Regions from separate parts of the Homo sapiens genome. Here region 2 is linked to region 1. Evidence: fine-mapped expression QTL. Tissue or cell type: whole blood. Region 1 holds a variant in brackets; the other region holds the start of a gene. All regions are shown on one strand. Distances are from middle to middle.

Region 1 (8,101 bases):
CTAATTTTTTGTATTTTTAGGAGAGACAGCGTTTCACTATGCTGGCCAGGCTAGTCTCGAACTCTCACCTCAAGTGATCCACCCACCTTGGCCTCCCAAAGTGCAGGGATTACAGGCGTGAATCAGCGTACCCTGCCACATTAAACCTTTTTTTTTTTTAGACAGAGTCTGGCTCTGTCACCATGCTGGAGTGCAGTGGTATGATGTTGGCTCACTGCAACCTCCGCCTCCCAGGTTCAAGTGATTCTCTTCCCTCAGCCTCCTAAGCAGCTGGGACTACAGGCGTGCGCCACCACACCTGGCTAATTTTTGTATTTTTAGTAGAGACAGGGTTTCACCATGTTGGCCAGGATGGTCTCGATCTCTTGATCTCATGATCCACCCACCTCGGCCTCCCAAAGTGCTGGGATTACAGGTGTGAGCCACCGCACCCAGCCACATTAAACTTTCTTGACCCATTTGCAGACAAGGGGAATCCGAGTCCTGGAGAGGCCAAGTAACCTGCCCACGATGGCCCATCAGCTAAGGAGCAGGAAGGAGAGAAGCTCTGAGCCCCTGCCTGGTTACCACCAGGCTCTACTGCTTCCTAGCTGAGCACCATACTGAGCCTCACTTCTTCCTTCTCTAAAATGGACATGATAATAGACCTTCCTCCTAGGATTACTGAGATAGTCCAGGTAGGAAATCATACCTGGTGTTACATGTAAGCTATCACTGCTATTGGTATTGCTGTTGTTATTTCAACAACTGAGACTCAACCAGGCCAGGCTAATCCCAGAGGCAAAGCTTTTATGCAGAGGACAAGCTTTTAACCAGTCCCACCAGCTAAAAGGGGTAGAAAGTGAGTAAACCAACCACATTTACTCTGAGACAGTCAACAAATACACAGCAGCCGCTTAGGACACACAAGGAAGTTAACTCATCCCCCTCATGACCTTGGGTCGCCAGGGTTAGATGTGCTTCTGCCAACATAGCCCGAGGAGGAGGGAGTGTTTTGTGGGAGCCGCTTAACACCCTGTCCTCCGCACCCGGTGAGGTCAGCACCCACTTTCCCACAACTATTGGGTAAACATACACCCAGCAAACCCTGCCTGAGGCCCAGGGCCAGGGACTCACGTGTGAAGGTCTGCAGCCTTCCACTGACTATTAGTGCAATGGGGTAGAGACTGGTAGAGAAAGCATTGTCTCAGGCTGGGTGCAGTGGCTCATGCCTGTAATCTCAGCACTTTGGGAGATCGAGGCAGGAGGATCACTTGAGCCTTAGGAGTCTGAGACCAGCCTGGGCAATACAGGGAGATCTTGTCTCTACAAAAAGTTAAAAAAAAAAAAAATAGCCAGGCATGGTGGTGTATGTCTGTGGTCCTAGCTACTTAGGAGGCTGAGGAGGGAGGATCACTTGAGGCTGGGAGGTCGAGGCTGCAGTGAGCCATGATCATGCCACTGCACTCCAACCTAGGTGCAAGAAAGAAAGAAAAGAAAGAGAGAAAGAGAGACAGAGAGAAAGAAAGAAAGGAAGAAAAAAGAAAGAAAGAAAGAAACAAAGAAACAAACAAACAAAGAAGGAAGGAAAGAAACAAAGAAAGAAAGAAACCAACAAAGAAAGAAAGAAAGAAGGAAGGAAGGAAAGAAAGAAAGAAACAAAGAAAGAAAGAAAGAAAGAAAGAAAGAAAGAAAGAAAGAAAGGAAGGAAGGAAGGGGAGAGAGAAGGAAGGGAGGGAGGGAGGGAGGGAGGGAGGAAGGAAGAAAGGGAGGGAAGGATGGGTTTGTCTCTCAACGTAAGAACCAAAATGAAGACATGTGTGTCTACCAGGTGAGGAGAGAAGTACGGAGAAGAAAGGGGAGGGTTGGTGGGTCCCCCAGGAGCCTGGTTGGCTGGTTGGAAACCAGAGGGTGTACTGGACAAGGCCCAGAATGCGGACCTGCCTGGGCCCCAATAAGGGGTCCCTCCCCATCCACAGGTAGACGCATCGCCCCGAGGTAGACACATGTCCCCTAGGGAAGAAGCCTTCGGCTACTCCTCACGTGCAAGTCACATGCTCCTCTCCCTGCTGGCACCACCATGGCCACAGCTGATGGGCAGGGGTGAGCACCTGGCTGCAAGCAGCCAATGGCGAGGCCAGCCAGCAGCCAATGAAATCAACAGCCCGATGTGGGCCTGGGCTGAGACCCACCCCCCAGAGGAGGCTGGGCTCGTGGCCAAGGACTCGGCTGCCAGCAGCAGGAGCGGCCACAAGAATGTGTACCCCTGGGGATGACAAGAAGCCCCTACAGTGAAATCCACTTCGGCTCTTCACGGGCCCTGGGGTCTTCACCTGGGTCCTGTGCCCACGAGGTCTTGGGCCCCAGCATCCTCACAGTAAACCCCTTTATCCCGGGGTCCTCAGTGCACGTCTGGCCCAGCAACGGCAATGAAACCAACAAACTGCCACACACTAGAGCTGGGTCCTGCGGCTCTGCCACCTGCTCTGTCAAACGCTGGGGTCCCCAGAAGCCACGGCCCCTGCCAAAGGTCATTTTGGGTCTCATTTGTCATCTGGGTACTTAGGGTAAAACGATATTTTCTGTGCAAGCCCCTCATTGCTTCCCTGTCTCTCCCATCCCCTAACTCCACCACCATGAAGGCCTCCCTGCTCTCACCCACTCCAAGAGCTGGATTTTCCCTGGCACAGAGAGCATAGCACCGACCCAGACAAGCCCTTTGCCACATGCGTCCTGCCAGGCATGATTCTGGCCACAAGGATGCATCAACTGCCACTGGAGCTGTGGGTGTGTTGTCACTGTGAAGCACATTGCAGCAGCAGCTGAGAGGAGAGACCAACCAGCACCCTGGGGAGGGGGCTGCATGCAGAGGTTGGGAAGTCACACTTTGGCTTCAAGCCAAGCAGAAGATCTGGCCCAAGAAAACAGGCTCATACCTCCTGGACAGGGTGGCCAAGAGACAGAGCTTCAGCTCAGGCTGGGACGCCAGTTGGGCAATAAAATTAATGACAATAATTATTATTATATAACAATGTTGATGACATTACTGGCCAACTTTACCTGCCAGACACTATGCTTGGTGCTTTATGTAGATCAGTTCATTGCCCTCATGTAGCAATCCTAGGAGGTGGGTCTATTATTATCTCTATTTTATTTTATTTTATTTTATATTTTTTAGAGGCAGAGTCTTGCTCTGTCACCCAGGCTGGAGTGCAATGGTGTGATCTTGGCTCACTGCAACCTCTGGCTCCCAGTCTCAAGCAATTCTCCTGCCTCAGCCTCCCGAGTAGCTGGGACTTCAGGTGCGTGCCACCACACCTGGCTAATTTTTTTTGTATTTTTTAGTAGAGACAGGGTTTCACCATGTTTGCCAGGCTGGTTTTGAACTCCTGACCTCAGGTGATCCACCTGCCTTGGCCTCCCAAAGTGCTGGGATTACAGGCATGAGCTACCTCGCCCGGCCTAATATCCCCATTTTAGAGATGAGAAAATTGAGGTTCAGAGGAGTGACATGACTTAACCAATGTCTGTGCTAAACTACAGTAAGATAGATAGATAGATAGATAGATAGATAGATAGATAGATAGATAGATAGATAGATAGATACCTATGTCTAACTACCTACCTACCTACCTATTGACCTATCTACCTACCTACCAACCTGCCTATCTCTCTATCTATGTGATATATATGAAAAAGACTCTTCAGAGAACTGACTCTGCTGATGCCCAGAATAGGGTGCGGGAGACTCATCAAGCTGATCTCCCATGCTGGGCCCAGCTGGATGTTCTGACTTTACCCAGAGTATCCAGATTTCAATTAACTATCTCGGAACCACAGTAAAGGAGCGTGTGCGCTATAGTTGATTGCTCAGCCCGAGCACAGGGCTGGGTAATCTTACTCCCAGAGGGTTCTGAGGTTGGAGCCTGGAATGGACCAGCTCTCTCCCTTGCCATTCAGCCCCACCCCCACCCCTGGAGCCAGGGACTCAAGCAGCCCAGCTTGACAGTCCTGGGAGGCCTGACCCCCGGCTGGGATCTCGTCATCAGCAATGCACCCAGGCTCTGGGGACAGCATGGTCTAGGGCCTCTGAATTGGCCATTATCCTAGCGGGAAGAAATGCTTCTCCCTCCAGGCTGAAAGCTGTCTTTGCTCCCAGTGATCACTTGCTCCCCAGCTCTGCACAGATTGACCCGCACACCTAGGCAGGCAAACACAGCAGTCCTAAGACCAAGAGCCAGGGTGAGGCCCTGGCAGAACAGCCATTGGAATGGGATGCCGGAGTGTCCCCAGATGGCGCCCGGGGGTGGGGTGGACCTCTTGCCACAGCAGAGTCTCCAACTGGAGCCTGGGGTTCACCCAAGACAGCCGTGGCCCTCCCTCTCACCACTTACCCCGTCCCCAGGCGCCTCTGCCTGAGCTCATCAGGCAATGACCGCAGTGACGTCACCCGGGAGGCCACGGCCAGCTTGAAATCCAGGGAGCTCCAGGATCCTGCCTGCTCCTCCCTCTCTCTCTAGCATGACTCAGGCAGGGACTGGCCCTGGGCTGCGGAAAGGCTCTCCACTTTTACACAATTGCTTTCCTCACTCAAACCACAGGCCCT[G/A]TGGGGGCCCCCTCCTCTGTCTCTCAACCCTCTGCGGTTAGGGTTCAGATGCTGGGCAGATGAAGACCCTGTTTGCTGCGAGAAGCCAAGACCAAGCCTCAGGAAATTGCCACAGTGAAGGGAAGCTTCCTCCGGAGACACCCTCTGCCTTGCACTACTGGGTCCCGTCAGAGCTTCTTCATCCTCCCTCCTCCCTCCTCCTCTTCCCATCTCCTCCTCCCCTTTCCTCTTCTCTAACCAAGAAAGTGACTTGATAACTAAATTCAACTTGTTAGTGACAGGACCTATGATTTTTCCAAAGGGTTGCTATATTTCTGAAAAACAAAGTCTGGTAGTAGAACATGTGTTCATTCATTCATTCATTCACGGAGGCGTGGAAGAGCAGTTAAAATCACGGTCAGACACCCTGTGGGTGTGTCCCAGCTCCTCTGCCATTCGCCACCTTTGCAACCATGGCCCAGTGACTTCCAGTCACTCCCCCATCCCCTCATGTGGGCTATGTTCTGGCTTGTTAAGATGAGGCTTGCTGGGGGCTCCCGGCAGTTAGGACCCGCCCAGGGCAAGGTGATGATTAGGAGAAAGGCTGAGGCTGGGCGAGGTGGCTCACGCCTGTAATCCCAGCACTTTCGGAGGCCTAGGCGGGAGGATCACATGAGGTCAGAGGTTCGAGACCAGCTTGGCCAACATGGTGAAACCCCATCTGTACTAAAAATACAAAAAATTAGCTGGGCGTGGTGGCCGGCACCTGCAATCCCAGCTACTCGGGAGGCTGAGGCAGGAGAATCGCTTGAACCTGGGAGGCGGAGGTTGCAGTGAGCTGAGATCGTGCCACTGCCCTCCAGCCTGGGTGACAGAGCAAGAATCTGTCTCAAAAAAAAAAAAAAGAAAAGAAAAGAAAAAAGAAAGAGGATGTCTCCAAAGGAGATGGGAGGGTTCTAGAAACCCAAATAGTAGAGTAGTAGAGACAGGCCCCAGGGGTGGAGAGGCCCAGGAAGGCAGATTTCTCCTTAATCACAAGGAAAGAAAGAACATTTTCTAGCAACAGAGAGGCTCTGGGGACATGGGATGCACAGCCTCAGGCCCACCTATCACTGAACATGTTCCAGCGTCCTGCAGAGGAGGGAGGCAGGCCTTGGAAAGTTCAGATTCCCCAAAGAGGAATGCATGGAAGCTTCTTTCCCTGCTGTCTACCTTAGTCAGCTCAGGCTGCCATAATAAAATGCCATTGCCAGGTGTGATGACTCACACCTGTAATCTCAGCACTTTGGAAGCCTGAGGCAGAAGGATCACTTGAACCCAGGAGTTCAGGACCAGCCTGGACAACATAGCAAGACCCCATCTCTAAAAAAAAAAAAAAAATAGCTAAGCGTGGTGGCATGCACCTGTAGTCCCAGCCACTTGGGATGCTGAAGCAGGAGGATGCCCTGAGCCCAGCCGTTTGAGGCTGCAGGGAGCCATGATGGTACCACTGCACTCCAGCCCAGGTGACAAAACAAGACCTTGGCTCTAAAATAAATAAATAAATAAATAAAATGCCACAGATTGGGTGCTTAAACAACAGGAATTTATTTCTTATGTTTGTGGAGACTGGGAAGTCCAAGATCCAGGTGCCTTCTCACTGTGTCCTTACATGGTGAGAGAGAGTAGAAGGAAGTTCCCTGGTGTCTCTTTTTATAAGGGTACTGATCCAATCTTGAGGGCCCCACCCTCATGACCTTATCAAACCCTAATCACCTCCGAAAGGCCCCAATCTCCAACGCCATCACATTGGGGATTTGGAGTTTGACGCACAAATTCTAGGGGGACACAATTCGGTCCTTAGCAAAAGGCCCCAATGGGTGTCTGCCCTGCCTCTCAGAACTGCACCCCACACCAGCAAAAGGGGGTGGCAACCTCCATGCTAGATTCCAATAGTATGTATGTATACATGTATGTATGTATGTATGTATGTATGTATGTATGTATGTATGTATTTATTTATTGAGATGGAGTTTTGCTCTTGTCGCCCGGCTGGAGTGCAGTGGTGCGATCTCAGCTCACTGCAACCTCCACCTCCTGGGTTCAAGCAGTTCGCCTGCTTCAGCCTCCCAAGTAGCTGGGATTACAGGCGCCTGCCACCAGGCGCCAGGGAAAAGACAAAGAAAGAAAAAGAAAGAAGAAAGAAAGAAAAAAGAGAGAGAGAGGGAGAGAGGAAGGAAAGAAGGAAGGAAGAAAGAAAGGAAGGAAGGAAAGAAGGGAAGGAGAGAGGGAAGGAAAAGAGACAGACAGAAAGAAAGAAAGAAAGAAAGAAAGAAAGGAAAAAGAGAGAGAAGGAGGGAGGGAGGGAAGGAAAAGACAGAGAAAGAAGAAAGAAAGAAAGAGGGAGAGAGGAAGGAAAGAAGGGAAGGAGGAGGGAGGGAAGGAGGGAGGGAGGGAAGGAAAAGACAGAAAGAAAGAGAAAGAAAGAAGAAAGAAAGAGGAAAGAAAGAAAGAAAAGAGAAAGAAAGAAAGAGAAAGAAAGGAAGGAAGAAAGAAAGAAAGGAAAGAAGGAAGGCAGGGGAGGGAGGAAGGAGGAAGGAAGGATTGATTGATTTTAAAAATGATTATTTAGGATCAGGCGCGGTGGCCTGTAATCCCAGCACTTTGGGATGCTGAGGCGGGCGGATCACCTGAGGTCAGGAATTCGAGACCAGCCTGGACAATATGGCGAAATCCCATCTCTACTAAAAACACAAAAATTGGCTGAGCGTGGTGGCCCATGCCTGTAATCCCAGCTGCTCAGGAGGCTGAGGAGTGAGAATCTCGAACCCAGGAGGCAGAAGTTGCAGTGAGCTGAGATTGCACCATTGCACTCCAGCCTGGAGGACACCACCTCTCTCCATAAAATGTGGGCAGTGGCACCTAGCAGAACGTTCTGAGGATTAAATGAGATTCAGGGTGCACTGCACTTTCCCCAGGCGCCTGGCCTGTGCAAGTTTTCACATGGGCTAGCAATGTTCATTAACCTGGATTCAATTCAGTCTGGGTTCTGGCTTCCCAAGACAACGAAATGCAAGGTTTAATCCTTGATTAGATCTTGAATTTAAAAAACAAAACAGGTTGGGCGTGGTGGCTCACGCCTGTAATCCCAGCACTTTGGGAGGCCTAGGCACGTGGATTACCTGAAGTCAGGAGTTGGAGACCAGCCTGGCCAACATGGCGAAACCCTGTCTCTACTAAAAATACAAAAATTAGCTAGGCATGGTGGCAGGTGCCTGTAATCCCAGCTACTCGAGAGGCTGAGGCAGGAGAATTGTTTGAACCTGGGAGGCGGAGGTTGCAGTGAGCTGAGATTGCGCCACTGCACTCCAGTCTGGGTGACAGAATGAGATCCCATCTCGAAAAAGAAATGAAAAGCAAAGCAAGACGGTATGGGTATTGTGGTTTTGGAAGAGCTCTCCTTAATCTTAGGAGATACATGATGAAGGGTGTAGGGGTGACATTTAAAAATGTCTGCAAAGTGCTTTGAAATAGGTCAGTTAAAAAAAACAAAAAAGA
Region 2 (8,096 bases), 25 kb before region 1:
AAAAAAAAAAAAAGCATAGTACAGACCAGAGGATAAAGGGTGATTCTATGGGGCAGAACGGGAAAAGCGTGGCACACATGTTTGTAAATGCAGCAAATCTCTGTGGGAAGATGCATGGCCATTGGCAGGAGTGTTTGCCCCTGGCCAGTAGAACTGCGTAGTGCCTGGAGGTCAGAGGTAGGAGGGAGACTGAATGTTCACTGAAGTCACCACCTTTCTCACTTTGTAATTATGAGTCATGACCACGTCTTACTTTTCCAAAGTTCATTTGAAATTAAATCATTGAATAAAGTAAAACAGTCAGAGAAGATCAGGAACACAGAAAACCTCAGCCCCTGGGAGTCCTCCAAGTCCCCTGTGTGCAGAAGAAGTTCTGAAAGGGCAGGCCATGGCCAGGTGTGGCCAGGCCAGGGGCCCGAAGTACTTGCCTGAGGCAGCGTTCCACGTCGGGGTCGCTCCTGCAATACTGGGGGCCTCCGTGTCTCAGGGCATCCTCGGGGTTGGCAAAGGCCTGAAATATACCAGTTGAGAGTCACTCCTCGTGAGACAAACGGCCCAGTCACCTGGGGCTATGTTTTGTCCATGACCAGAGTTCACAGTGGCAGGACAGAGGTGCAGTTGCACACACACCCATCCAACCATCATCCACGATTCCTACCCTGTGCCAGGGGCTGGTAGCTCACCATGAAAAGGCCCCCCTGTCTCTGCTTTTATGAAGCTCACAGTCCGATGGGGGAGTTGCCTATGAACCAGGGAAGGCCAGGGTGTCTCACCTGTTAAGAAGAAGGCACGGCTGGCCTTGAGAATGTTTACGTGGGACCTGACCCAGTCTGAGGCTCTGAGAAAGTTTCTCTGAGGCAGTGACATGAAAGCTGAGGCTTAGGGCTGGATGAGGTGGCTCACACCAGTAATCCCAGCACTTCGGAAGGCCAAGGCAGGGGGATTGCTTGAGCCCAGGAGTTCAAAACCAGCCTGGGCAACATAGCAAGACCCCATCTCTAAAACAAGCCAGGTGTGGTGGCTCACGCCTGTGAGCCAAGCACTTTGGGAAGCCAAGATAGGAGGATTGCTTGAGCTTCCAGGAGTTTGAGACCAACCCGGGCAACATAGCAAGACCCCATCTCTAAAACAAACAAACAAGCTGGGTACAGTGGCTGATGTCTGTAATCTCAGCACTTTGGGAGGCCGAGGCAGTTGGATCACTTGAGCTCAGGAGTTCAAGACCAGCCTGGGCAACATGATGAAACCCCCTCTATAAAAAATACAAAAATTAGCTGTGTGTGGTGATACACACCTGTGGTCCCAGCTACTTGGCAGGAGGGCTGAGGCAGGAGGATTGCTTGAGCCTGGGAGGTCGAGGCTACAATGAGCCGTGATCTTGCCACTGCACTCCAGCCTGGGCAACAGAGCCAGACTCTGTCTCCAAAAAAAATAAAACAAACAATCTGAGGCTTGAAAGATGCATTGACATTAACCAGATGAAGGGAGGGCTGGAGCAACAACATTCAAGGCAGAAGGGACAGCACGTGCAAAGGCCCTGAGGCTGGAAGAAGCTGGGCATGTGTGAAGAACAGAAAACCAGCACACGGGAGCACAGAGGGCAAGGGACAGGGGCCCAAGATAAAGGGACAGGGGTCATCAGGGGTCCTGGCAGCACCTGAAGAATTTGGACTTTGCACTAAAAGCCATGAGAAGGTCTTGAGAGCCCCAGGCTGAAAACCCAGCTCCGCGCTGATTAACCACAGGATCCTGAACTCTGAAAACTCAGGAGAAATCACAGCTCATGTGCTGTGTGACGAGTGAGAGGGAGACCTGGAGAAGCCGCTAGGACAATGCCCAGCACAAGGAGGTGCTCAGTGAATTGTCACTTTCTCTCATTGGAAAGCAGAGACATAAAGTCACACTGAGATCATCAGAGGCCCATGACTCTTGCTCCACTGTTCCCTGCTGGCATCCAGACAGTCAGACCCCACCAGGCCCACAGCAGAGCCTGAATCTCAGGAGCAGGTTTTCTAAATTGTTCAGCTGACGGCAAATCCTGTGCTTCTGACTCATGACTGTCCCCCAAGGGCTGGTTTGTCCTCCCTGGTGGGCCTGCCCTGCCCTACCCCAGAGGAGAATGCAGCTCAGATCTTCGAGATTGGAACCTTCACACCCAAAATTCCTCTCTGCTGGCCCTGAAATCAGTGAATCACCAACACCGAAGGCTCTGTCCGTGGATCTGTGATACGTTTCAAGGGGCCTCAGCATACAGTGGGCACTGCCTTTAGGAGTCCACTGCCCATGGAGTTGCTCCCCCTGGAGATACAACTCAGATACAAGTCAGCCAGGCCAGAGCCAGCTGCAGTGCAGGCCAGGAAGCCCCCAGTGTCAGCGGCCGAGGTGCCACCTTAGCTGGGGTGGAGGCCAGCCTTTGGTTGAGGTCCCTTGAAAGTGACCTGAGGCTGCGATGCTCATGTTAATTTCAGTTACTTATAAGTCTTAAGGACAAACATTGGTGGGGCGTTGCATTCTCCTGGCGCTGCTGTCACGACCCCCGTTTACAGGTGAGGACACTGAGCTCCCAGACTTTTCCAGGTCCCCAGGCTGGTGGGTGGAGGAGCCAGGGCCTGTGACTGTCACCTCCAGCAAGTCCTTCCTGGATGATACTTAGCGCCCAGAGCAGAGATAAGAGGGGGCCACGTTGTCATGAGGAACACCTCAGGAGCAGCCCAAGGAGTGGGGGTTTCCTTCTGCGGTGTCCCTGCCAATCAGGCAGAAAGGCTCTGGGACAGGTTCACCTCCTCCCTTCCCCGAATTCGTGTTAAAAGGAAATCACAGCTGGGCACAGTGGCTCACACCTGTAATCCCAGAACTCCAGGAGGCCAAGATGGGAGGATCACTTGAGCCCAGGAGTTTGAGACCAGCCTGGGCAACATGGCAAAAGCCATCTCTACCAAAAACATAAAAAATTAGGAGCAGTGACGCACACCTATAGTCCCAGCTACTTGGGAGGCTGAAGTGGGAGGATCACCTGAGCCCAGGAAGTCGAGGCTACAGTGAGCTATGATCGCACAATTGCACTCCAGCCTGGGCCACAGAGCAAGACCCTGTCTCTAAAATAAATAAATAATAATTAAAAAAAAAAAAAAAAAAGGAATCGCTGGCCTGCTGGTAAGAACCCAGGCCTCAGCCAGGTGCGGTGGCTCACGCCTGTAATTCCAACACTTTGGGAGGCTGAGGCGGGTGGATCACCTGAGGTCAGGGGTTCAAGACCAGCCTGGCCAACATGGTGAAACCCCATCTCTACTAAAAATACAAAAATTAGCAGGGCATGGTGGTGTGTGTCTGTAATGCCAGCTACCGGGGAGGCTGAGGCAGTAGAATTGCTTGAACCCAGGAGGTGGAGGTTGCAGTAAGCAGAGATCATGCCGCTGCACTCCAGCCTGGACAGCAGAAAAAAAAAACAAAACAGAAACCCCCGCCTCCAAGACAGGATGTGGGCTCTGAAGCTGGACACTGGAGTTCAAACCGGGCTGTGTGACCTTCATAAGTGATGTCTCCTCTCTGAGCCCAGGTTCCTCACCTAGAAAACAGGATGACTATGGCGCCTCCCCTGCCCTCAGGGCTGTGGCGGGGATCTCATGCTCAGCTCCGGGCCACATTCGGTCCTCTGGGAAGGATTCAATGAGTGAATGCAGCTGTTCTACTTGATGCCCGGATCCCATATCCCAGGACCAGCCAAGGCAGGGAGAAGTCAGAAGCTATCAGTGTGCTGTAGCCTCCGGGCATCCTATCACTTGGGCAGCTGCCCTGCCTTTAATCCTGCCTGTACCTGCAGCAGGGCCTGAGCCTGGCTTGTGGCCAAGATCCTCACTCCCCAGGATCCACCCGCATGCAGTGCCAGAGCCAGCCTTGCCTCACCTCGCCTTTGAACTGGACACAGGGGAAGACAGAGACAGTTTCAGGAAATGATTGCTTTATTAAAATACCTGGGGAGGAAGTAACAGGTGCCTGGGGTCTTTCTGCATTCTGCCGCCAGGACAGCCGACAAGCTCAGCCTATGACTTTGCAGACTCGCCAACCAGTGTGACGGACGCTACTGGAACTTGCCCCGGCCCAGCTCTGGGACTCGTTAATGTTGTTTTGGTTCAGGGGCTCGGATTAGTGGGGAAATTCCTCGCTGAGCACCCCGACGGTGCCCGGCTGGGAGCTGGCCTTTGGAGGCTACAGTGGGCTTGTTAGTGACATTTGCCAGGAGTTGGGAATTTCCACTTAAACGTTTCTCGGACTCCTGTTTTGCCGGTTCCCACTCCACCCAGATATCAGACCTCCCGTGCCGGGAAGCCACCAGGTTAGACAGAGGCTTTGTGCTGTCACGCTCCCACACTCCACCCTCCAGAACCTGCTTCTCTCACAGACACTCGCTGGCTCTCTCCATGCCAAGAACTCAGCCCGGTGGCACGGCAAGCGAGTAAGTGCTCTTAAGCCAGAGAGGAGAAGGTGCAGGCCTTGCTGACACGTGGGACTGGCAGGAAGCCCCCCGGCGGGGCTGGAAGAGGTGCTCACCTCCCAGCCCTGCACACACCTTGGCCATGTTTCCCTATCCCGGGGCTTTCCTGACAGGACGTGGAGAGAAGCAAGTATGACCCAGGCCGGGGACCCCCAGGGAGGCACATACCTTCTTCCGCAGCCTCACTTGGCCCGTGATGATGGCCACCACGTACATCTTGATGACCAGCAGCGTGCTGCAGAGCAGGAAGGCCGGGAGGGCCGGGCTGCTCATCACCAGGCTGTGGGCAGGCATCTCTGGCCAGCGCAGCTCAACTGTGGGTGTGATCAGCTCGACAGAGGAGCAGCCTGCAGGGAAAGCACAAAGTGGGAGGGGAGAGCCTTCCTGCAGCCAGCACCGCCCACGCCCCGCCCCACGGCAGCGGCAGCAGGGCCCCCTTCTCCTGTGAAGAGAAAGACAAGCAGTTGCCGGAGCTCCAAGAAGCAGAGAGTCTCCGGGTGTCCCGGACCCAGTCCCTGGCTCTGGAGCCCTCCTTCCAGGCAAATCCTCAAACACTTTCAAATCTGTTTCAAAGCTGTTTCCTTATCTACAGTGTGGGAGCATGTGGTGGTGCCTGCCTTCTAGGGAATGATGAGGCTGGGCACCTGGCAGGACCTCTGCACGTGGTGATTATCGCTGCCTCCTGCCCACCTCCGCAGGGTCAGGGTAGGTGGTGGGCATGAGAACCACGCCATGCGCCCCCACACTCAGCCTGGACAATGGAGCTGCAGCCACAATGGCATGACTTTGCCATCTGTGGCAGGCTGAAGGACGCCCTCCACCCCTAAAGACATCCATGTCCCAATCCCTAGAACCCGTGACTGTGACTATGTGGCAAAAGGGACTTTTCACATGGGATTTCGTAAGGATTTGAGATGGGAGAAATTATCCTAGTTTATCTGGGTGAGCCCAGAGTATACAGAGGGGCCCTTCCAAGAGGGAGGCAGTAAAATTAGAGAAAAGATATAAAAACAGAGGCAGCATTAAGAGAGGAGATGAAAGGACAGAATAGGGGTCAGACAGGAGAGACGCTAACCTGCTGGCCTTGAAGATGAAGGAGAGATCATGGCCCAAGGAATACCAGGGGCCTCTAGAAACTGGAAAAGGGGACGAAACAAACTCTCTGCGTTCAGACAGAACGCAGCCCTCCCGACACTTTGATTTTAGCCCTGTGAGACCCATTTCAGGCTTCATCCACCAGAACTGTCAGAGAATGAAGCTGTGTTGTTTTAAGCCACTAAGTCTGTGGTAATTTGCTATAGCAGGGATGGGGAACCAGCACGTGGCTCCACTGACTTCCTGAGCATCACTTGACTATCCTGGAACTCTTTCCCCAGTCAAATGCTTTGATTCTTCATCACAAGATCTCCCCGAAAGACCTATCAACTGACTCTTCAGTAGAAAGCATCACCAGGCCGGGCGCGGTGGCTCACACCTGTAATTCCAGCCCCTTGGGAGGCCAAGGGGGACAGATTACCTGAAGTCAGAAGTTCAAGACCAGCCTGGGCAACATAGGGAGACTCCGTCTCTACAAAAAAATGTTTTAATTAGCTGGGCATGGTGGTGCTCGCCTGTATTCCCAGCTACTCAGGAGGCTGAAGTGGGAGGATCACCTGAACCCAGGAGGCTGAGGCTGCAGTGAGCCATGTTCTCACCACTGCACTCTAGCCTGGGTGACAGAGCAAGACCCTGTCTCAAAAAAGAAAGAAAGCATCAACGTTTGTTTTCTAAGATTCTTTGAATCCCTCACCTCAAAATCCTCACCTTGGCCAGGTGGCTCACACATGTAATCCCAGCACTTTGGGAGGCCGAGGGGGGCAGATTATCTGAGGTCAGAAGTTCGAGACCAGCCTGGCCAACGTGGTGAAATCCCCTCTCTACTAAAAATACAAAAATTAGCCAGATGTGATGGCAGACACCTGTAATCCCAGCTACTTGGGAGGCTGAGGCGGGAGAATCGCTTCAACCTGGGAGGTGGAGGTGCAGTGAGCCAAGATTGCACCACTGTACTCCAGCCTGGGCGACAGACCGAGACTCTGTCTCAAAAAAAATCCTCACCTTGCTGCATCCTGCCCGCTTCCCCGGGTTCTGGCAGGACCTCCACAAGGTCAGGGATCTTTTTTTTTTTTTCTTGTGAGACAGACTCCTGCTCTATCACCCAGGCTGGAGTGCAATGGCGTGATCTCTGCTCACTGCAACCTCCACCTCCAGGTTCAAGCAATTCTCCTGCCTCCGCCTCCCAAGTAGCTAGGACTACAGGTGCCCACCACCACGCCCAGATAATTTTTGTATTTTTAGTAGAGACGGGGTTTCACCATGTTGGCCAGGATGGTCTCAATCTCTTGACCTTGTGATCCACCCACCTCGGCCTCCCAAAGTGCTGGGATTACAGGCATGAGCCACCGCACCTGGCCAAGGGCAGGGATCTTGTACACGGTTCTTGCTCATTTATTTTCGCCAACATATTTGGCTTTGCTGAGAGGTGCCCTGGGGAAGTGGGGCAAAGGGGAAAGGGAGAAACCAGTCTCCCATGCCTACTTCACTCTTGGGCTTGACCAGGTGCTTTGGGACAGCACCTGCCCAGAGAGACAGCTGTGTCAGTCCAACCTATGCCCCAAAGCAGCAGAGATCAAAGGGAAGATTGGCCAGAGCTAGATTTAGCCAGCCTCGAATCCCAAAGCCAGCCCTCAGCTGTAGCTGTGTGGCCTTAGGCAGGCAGGTTCCTCCTCTGAACCAGTTTCCTCAGCTGTAAAATGCAGCTGACCCTAAGTCACTCCCCAGCGCAGTTGTGGGAGCTAAATAATTATGAAGCCCCTGGAACAAGTAGGCACTCCGTTCAGTATCATCCTCTGAGCTTCCGTTTCCTCCTGCTCAAAGGGAATAATGATCCCTACCTAGTAGGGTTGTCAGGAGGGAGACTCATAGAAATCCCTGCCCTTGTTGCTGGGGGAGGTGGGTGTGAGCAAGGTGGGGGTGGTGCCTTGCCCATTTGCTGTGTGCCAAGCAGTCCTTTATCCGAACAAAAGATGTGCTTGATAAACTGACTCCCGTGGGGAACTGCCAGGCCAGGCTGTCCCGGCCCCACAAGATAAATGATAGGTCACCATACCATCAGGGACGGAACATGGAAAGTACAAGATGCCCTGAGACACGTTTTATCTCTGGTTGTCTGTTGGAGGAGCTGTGCAAGCTCGCTTCTGGCTGATATTTCTGTCGGAGAAGAGAGAATCCCTGCCTCTCTCGCCCCCAGCCCGTGGGAACCCCTGCAGGTAGCTACCTTCCTTGTCAAAAAGCTCAGCTATGAGGTTGGGGTCTGGTGGCTGTACCACCCCCAGAATCGTGGACCAGACACAGCCCAGGAGGGGCCCTTTGGTTGTCCTCCTTGGACTAGGGAGAGTGGCTCTTCCCTGACTGGTCTTCTGAAATAACAAGATAGAAAGCAGAGGCTGGGAAAACCAGCTTGGGGCAAAGAGCAGACGATCACCTCCCGCTACCCTGAGCCGAAAATAGGGGAGAGACTGTGTAGGGGAATTCGTATAACTGATGGACATGATCTCAAGATAGG

Evidence for each region. PIP is the estimated chance that this variant, and not a neighbour inherited with it, causes the effect.
Region 2: PTGES starts here. The variant in region 1 is fine-mapped to the expression of PTGES in whole blood (TOPMed, PIP above 0.99).

Annotation. Positions count from the first base shown.
Region 1 is chr9:129,772,846-129,780,946 of GRCh38, forward strand. No RefSeq gene overlaps it. Among named protein-coding and RNA genes, the nearest start is that of PTGES, 24 kb to the left of the region's middle. RefSeq lists enhancers at 2,221-2,787, 4,179-4,694, 4,325-4,619. The variant G/A (reference allele first, on the strand shown) is at 4,586.
Region 2 is chr9:129,748,227-129,756,322 of GRCh38, forward strand. PTGES (prostaglandin E synthase) reads right to left here and starts at 4,816. Exons shown (of 3, transcript NM_004878.5): 1 at 4,661-4,816; 2 at 429-511. The coding sequence starts at 4,786.